Homo sapiens: one gene and its partner. The protein of the gene in region 2 purifies or fractionates together with the protein of the main gene of each other region. This does not show direct contact. Each region holds a gene or a part of one and is shown on either strand. Other genes may lie near its edges.

The links. The genes of interacting proteins can lie anywhere in the genome.
Region 1: the proteins of FPGT (region 2) and NLN fractionate together in Homo sapiens (co-fractionation; one large-scale study listed by BioGRID). This does not show direct contact.

The regions. Positions count from the first base shown.
Region 1 is NC_000005.10:65,823,202-65,826,640, reverse strand, and holds part of NLN (neurolysin, mitochondrial), read right to left. Parts: 3' UTR 1-3,439. UniProt on the Homo sapiens protein: Hydrolyzes oligopeptides such as neurotensin, bradykinin and dynorphin A. Acts as a regulator of cannabinoid signaling pathway by mediating degradation of hemopressin, an antagonist peptide of the cannabinoid receptor CNR1.
Region 2 is NC_000001.11:74,196,715-74,200,464, reverse strand, and holds the start of FPGT (fucose-1-phosphate guanylyltransferase), read right to left. Parts: upstream 2,224-3,750; 5' UTR 2,187-2,223; coding exon 2,105-2,186; intron 802-2,104; coding exon 634-801; intron 1-633. Other genes in the region: FPGT-TNNI3K fusion protein, read right to left, coding at 634-801, 2,105-2,186. UniProt on the Homo sapiens protein: Catalyzes the formation of GDP-L-fucose from GTP and L-fucose-1-phosphate. Functions as a salvage pathway to reutilize L-fucose arising from the turnover of glycoproteins and glycolipids.

The sequences.
Region 1 (3,439 bases), on a different chromosome or scaffold from region 2:
GAGCCACCACATTCATTTCTTTGTTGCTTTTATTCTCACCACACATTTATAAGAGAAGGCATGTTCAATTTCAGTGGGCTATCCAATTTCAGATGGGAGACATCTAACTGTAATGTGTTGATTTGAGGGAAGAAGCTGTGGTCACTGCATCTATTCAAATAAAATGGATTTTCTCTTTTAACATTCTTTGGGGGCTCAGTTAACTATGTTTAAACCCTATTTGAGGAATCAGTATTCGTTATGGACTGAATGTTTGTGCCCCATCCCCTACATTGAAGCCGTAACAGCCAATGTGATGGGGTTAGGGGGTGGGGCCTTTGTTGGGGGTGACTGGGTTTAGATAAAGTCATGAGGAAGGAACTCTCATGATGGGATTCCTGCTCTCGTAAAAAGAGACACTCTAGGGCTTGCTCCCTGCCACTGCTGCCTGCAGAAGTTTCTAAACCCTTTATGTTCCACATCTGCCTCCTGTCTCTTCCCATGGCTCTCTACAGAGCTATTTGTAACATGTCTACCTGACACTTTTGGGGATGTGGTCAGTAAAAGAGGAAGAGGGGCCTCACCACGAACCAAATTTACCAGCATGTGGATTGTGGGACTTCCCAGCTTCCAGAACTGTAAGAAATGTCTGCTTTTGAAGCCACCCAGTCTGATATTTTGTTATAGAAGCCTGAAGTATGATGGTATTTTAATGTAAATTTTAATGTAAATTTTAATCCACCTGTGTATGATAGAAAATGAATAAATGGTAAACACACACTGGCCTAGTGGGGAGGCAGAATCTCCACAGACCTATAATTCATACATAAAAGCTAAAGGTAAAATGGTAAAGTAGAAAATTGAGTCACTGCCTGCTACTTAAGGCATTTACAAGTACAATGATCATATCAGTAATTTTTCTTTGAAGAGCTATTTCCTCAATTTTGGTATCTCCCACAATGCAATTTTTCATCCGAAGAGCTACAGATATCCACCTCTCACCTTATTAGCTTTAGAAAGGCAAGACCTTGGCATAAGTAGCTCAGGTGATAACTCAAGGCAATTTTTAGTTGTTTATCTAGGTAACATGCAACATTTATACTAGAGGGGGACAAAGTCTACATCAGGTGGCAAAACGTCAAGACATTTCTCTTCTCTGCAGCATCGTAAAACTAAACCTTTAGGATCATGCCTACTATCCATTTGCATAAGATGTTGAAGATTTTATCCTTCACAACATAACAATGCCTAAAAAAAAAACAAAAAACCCGAAAGAGGCCTAAATCCCCTGGATCAATTACCAGGAGAGACCTTATTATATGTGGCTCAGTCCATAAATCTAAAGTGTACATTTGTCCAATTACAATTTACATAGTTATCCACCATTTCAAGCATGTCAGTGATATTCTCTGCTCTGATCTGGAAAAAAAGAACAACTAGACGGATGACCACACTAAAAAAAAAAAAGTTAAGTCCTTTCTTTTGAATTATGCTAGAGAATTTTTAAAAAGTCCTTTCTTTTAAATTATGCTAGATAATTCTTTGAGTATTAATTTTTTTTGAGACTGAATCTCACTCTGTCGTCCAGGCTGGAGTGCAATGGCATGATCTCAGCTCACTGCAACCTCCACCTCCCGGGTTCAAGCTATTCTCCTGCCTCAGCCTCCTAAGTAGCTGGGACTACAGGAACCCAACATCATGCCCAGCTTTTTGTATTTTTGTAGAGACAGGGTTTCACCATGTTGACCATGCTGGTCTTGAACTCTGACCTCAGGTGATCCTCCTGCCTTGGCCTCCCAAAGTGCTGGGATTACAGGCATGAGCCACTGCGCCCGGGCTGAGTTTTAATTTTGTGACTGCTCTTTGGTAGATTTTAAATATTAGAGGTAGGCCCTAAATAGAAAGAACACCATGGTGCTTTTGCTCTCATGCATTTCGGTTTTAACGTTAAAGTATGAAAGAAATATGAGTTCATTTTCATGGATAATAATATAACTTTATTGTGTGCAGCCTTTCCACACCAATTTAGTTTTTCTATGAAATAAGATTTCAAGTGGTAAAGTTACTGTTAAGGAGACACACTGGAAAAAGCTGAAGAGTTTTTTTGTCTGAAACTGAAAAACAGAAAAGTCTAGGGGGAAAGATGTGAGAAAACTACTATAGGCTACAAAGACCACAAAAACAGTTTTGGGGATTAGAAGGGGGTGACATTGAGTGAGTGTGTGGGAAGAGAAGGGCTGGGCAAATTATCTCAGAAGAGGGGGTAGTAGGATTTCAGGTGGATGTTTAAGGTATTTGCTTGGCAGATATAATCTAGGAATCTCCTAGCTCTTGCATTTCCTGCTATCTGTAACTTTATTATGTAGTATAATAATTTTTTATTTAGCACAAAGTTCATTTGGACTAGAGAATCGGAAGGTGCTAATTTTGTCCCCGGCTAGCAAAGTCATACCTGAGGTATGCGCTGGAAAACAACTGGAAGACCTAGGCAGGGGAATTCAAAGTTGTTTTTTTTTTAAATTTTATTATCCTGTCTTGGTTTCCTTATTGAATAGATTTCCACAGGAAAAATACTGTGAGTTTACTGATCTGCTGCAGAATTGGAATTTAGACTCACAATAAAGAGAGTTAAAGATAGATCCAAAGGTTCACTTAAAATAAAAATCACCAGACAGAACAGGCTACTGAAGAGTCTCTTCCCCGTGGTTAAGTTTCATCATACACATAAGGCTTTGGAGCAGCTGTCCTCAAATGCTTCTATCCAAAACCCACTCCTCTTCTGGAGTTTCTGAACCCTTTATGTTCCACATCCACCTCCTCTCTCTTCCCATGGCTCTCTACAGAGCCATTTGTGACATGTCTACCTGACACTTTTGGGGACGTGGTAAGTAAAAGAGGCAAAGTCCCTAACACTTATTAGAAACGTGAGAAGAGAAAAATGTGCTTGGACTTGCTTTAGTATTCTAATTGGCACACATGCCAAAAGACTAACGATCTTGTATGCTGAGGTGGAAATGAGCCTCTAATAAAAGCTACGAAATCCTCTAATACAAGATACAAAAACTTATACATTACACCAGTCTAGCTGAAACATAATTTTTTGATACTCTTTGACTGAACTTTAGACAGAAAAGACAAAACTGAAATGGAGGAACGTAATTTAAGTGTGGCAGAAAGTTGGGAATCATGCGGCCTGATATACAAAGATAAATGCATCACTGAGGCATATTCCCCTGGCCTTGAGGTATGCAGGCAAAGGAGAGGTCACACCTTCCTGGGAGACAAAGGATCAAAGTTGACACAGAGCTCCAAGAAAATATTTACCAGAAGAATGTGATGATTCATTTATCAGTCCAGAAATCCCAAGTACAAAACTTCAAGATACAAGAAGGATCAAATTATATCATATATATGATTCAATTTAAAAATTCTTAGCCCTCTTATATCATATTATCTAGAT
Region 2 (3,750 bases):
GGATTAAAATAATGTTGGCTAATTAGAATAATGCTAATGTCATATTAATGTCATATACAGATATCTTATCTCTGGTATCAGGGGGCTTCAACTTTAAGTATCACATAGAAAAGAGCATTCAGAAAAACAGCATTTATTTCTATTTGCAATGGACGGTCAAAGGGCAAAGTTGACCTAAACTAGGGTTTTCAAATATATGTATTATATTTAAGCCATGTGACAGTGTTCTTTTGCATTCTGCATTATGTCCCTAAGAGGTCAAGAGTATTTTTTCCCACTAATTGCTTTCTTCATGTAAATTGCTGGAGGAACTCTGGAGTGGAGAGGACCTCAAGGGTTCTACTGATAAGGTCCAAAGGAGTATTCCTATCTGAATAGTGTGAATTTCATTAAAACTAATAAAATTTTCTTTTAAGTAACATTCTGGAAGTTTTTCAAGGTAAGTCATAATGGGTAAGAACAGTTGCTATTCCTTTTATCTTTCTAAAAAAAGTCAATTTATGTTCAAATTTTAAAGTTTGTAAAGCTGTGGGTAGAGATATGCAGCTTATACACTGTAAGTCACAGAAACCTTTTCTTCAATGATTATTCTGCTTAGGACCTATATTATAAAACTGACCATAAAGCGCGTACCAATTTTGGCTCCAGCAGGATCCACAAAAACGTGATATTGAACTCCAAGGGGTAACTCCTTTCTTTTCAGCTTTTCTGACAGCTGTTGGTTGTAAGCAAGTTCCTGTTTTTCATCAGCCGCTGTTATTGCAACTATGTCCCAGAATTCTCCACGTGCTACAAGTTTGCCTATTTGGAAAAAGCAAGGAAATGAAAACAAAAATTATCAGAATTTTCTAGTTGCCACAGGTTTGCCTATTGAGAAAGATGATAAAGAAGGTAATATCCATTATCATCTTCCAAAATGTATCTTTGGCTTTTGAAAGTTAGGGAATAATTAGTGGTGCATTAATACGATTCAAAATAGTTATAATGAAGACTGTTCACAAGTTCCTTTTTTTTCTTTTAGATCACTCCCTCCTTTTATGGTTTGCAATCCAATTTAATTATAAATTCTGAATGACATAATGTTTCTTGATTAAGAGAGCGACTTTTAACTTGCCAAAGACTATTGCCTCAATTCTTCAATAAGAAGAGGAGATAAACATAAACAAATCTCCAGCTTTGCAAATCAATTCTTATGTATCACGGACACTTGGTGTTAGGTGACTAAGAAAGACACAACCCAAAGATCCCTTCCCTCAATGTTGCTGTTTATAAATGTGGGTACTTTATTTTCTATTACTTTAAGATGAACCATGCAAACTTACATAGGCTGTTAGAATATAACATAAAATTCTGGATAACAGAAGGTCCCAACTCTCTGATGACATCTTTAAAAGACAGTGTGCACTTTTAGTAGACAGTTGGAATCTCTTTATTGATAAACAAAATGATTTAGCATTTTAATTAGTTAACAAACAGAACTTGTCAGCTAGAATCTAATAGTCCTGAAAGTTTTACTGTTATCCAAGAATTAGTCCCAGTATTTTTTAAGCAGTCACTGCAACACAAATATAATCACTTTTATTAGACAGGTGTACAGGGATTAAGTGTCATAGCCAATTTTTTGATAACAAATTTCTTCCTTTTAATTTTTAATCCATAATTCCTCCATGTTCTGTTACTCCCTCAACAAACGGTTACATTACAGAAGTAGATGAACGTAATGTAAAGCGTGAAGTAGATAGGGGGCTGGCATCTACTCATAAAGTTCAAAATACTGTGCTTCGTATCTTTTAGATTTATTTAAAGCAACTTTTATTAATGAGCTAATCAATGCATAACTTCACTAGTAAGATTTTCTTCTTCTTCCTCCGCCCTCATTTTTAATATCTATACTACTAAGAATAAAGTAAGCAACAAGCATGTCAAGCAGGGACAGTGAAAAGAATAAAAAACTCAAAAGGATTATTAGCTAGCTACTCCTGGGGAGCGTCATAGGCCTACAGATGAGAAGTAAACGGGAAGTGACAGTCCAGCAAACCTCCTGGCACGTAAAAGCACCCTCCCTCTGCATTGCCCAGGAGAACTCCGGTGCCTTCTCTGGTACCTCTTAGCTCGGAAAACCTCCGCAATTTTCGCTGGGTGGCTTCTCGCAGCGATACTTCCGGAGGGTCCCTAGCAGCTGCCATAGCCCCACCTTCCCTGAGACCGCGCCGCACAGCACGCATGCGCCCTGGGGTGCGCCTCCGCCCGGTTGTTTCTGACCCGCCCCCTCCGTGCGTCGCCCACGTAACCACGCCCCCGGAGCGCCTTGGCTGGCGCCCGGAAAACCATGATGTGGAGAACTTGGATGTTGTCTTGTTTCTCTAGCAACGGTCTCAGGAGCAGATGGCCGCCCAGCGATTTGTCTGACTGTGTTGGGGCTGGGCCACTTGTCTCCAACTCATAAGGGCTTGCAGCCCAGTTGACCCGGTGAGTGGTTCAGTTTGGGTGACAAAATTGTTAGAACCGACCCGCTAAGGATAAGGCGAAACTACATTCTAGCTTCCCAGCTTTCACATCAAAGGCGGTTCGTCCTAACTGGTGGTTTGTTTCAGCCTGGAGCAGTTCCCCAGGATAGCCTGATAGAAGATCTCCGCCATCTCTCCTTTCCCCCGCCACCCCGGGCCATCTGCCCCCAACCCTGGGTCATGATACATACACAGTCTGAATATTTAAAATCTCTGCTCTTTCTAGGAACCTTAAGTTTGTGGTTCCTAGAGAGTGAGCCACCCCACCCCTCTGTTTTTTCTTAGTAGGCTACACACGACAGCCTCTCAAATAGTGTCTTTGAAAGTTGTATAAAATTCAGTCCGCAACCAGGCTCCAAATATTTTTGGTATTTTGGTTTCTTCTCTGGCATTCTTTTGTATATGCAGATTAATCTAGAATGTTCAATAACACTCTTAGGAATAAGTCAGCCTTTTTAGGTGTTTTTTTGGGTAGCTATATAAAGGTGTTCCTGTTATAGAACACGAGGTTTCTTGGTTTTACAGACCACTTCATCTTTACACAGAAGAAAACTGAATCAGAGAATAGTGAGTTAGTCAAGGTATCACAATTAGTAAGTAATAAAAGATTTAAGAAATATATTTCAATCCCAAACCCAGAACTTGTGGTATTTCACCATACCGTTTGATTTTTTGAGACGATTTCTCTGTATCAACGTCTTCATTAGGTACGTAGACATTCAGGGCACCATAAACTCTTGTCATAAATTTACTTAGTTTTTCTTCTCAGACTTGTTATACAATCGTGTTCTAATAGTGGAAACATTTGGATAAAATGGCAGATTAGATTACTCTTTCATAGTTTTACATTTAAAACTTCATTAATTAAAAAAACAGTATCTTATTGAAGAACATTTAGAAAATACAGAGACTTGAGTGAAAGTAACCAAAGGAGAAAGTAGCGAGAGAAGGTCAGAGAGAGAACAAAGGGCCATAGGAAGAATTTTGGTTTTTACTCTTGAGGGAAACAAAGCCATTGCAGGGTTTTGAAGTGACTTGGCTTATGTTTAAAGAGATCACTCGGAGATAGGAGAATAGATTATAATGGGGGATGAGGCAATGATAGAAGCAGGGAGACTTCTTTGGAGGTTACTGCAATATTGCAGGTGAGAGCTGGTGAAGGCTTGACCAGGATGGTAGCAGTGGGAATGGTGAGAAGTTGGTCAGATTCTGGATATATTTTTAAGACAAAAACAATAAAATG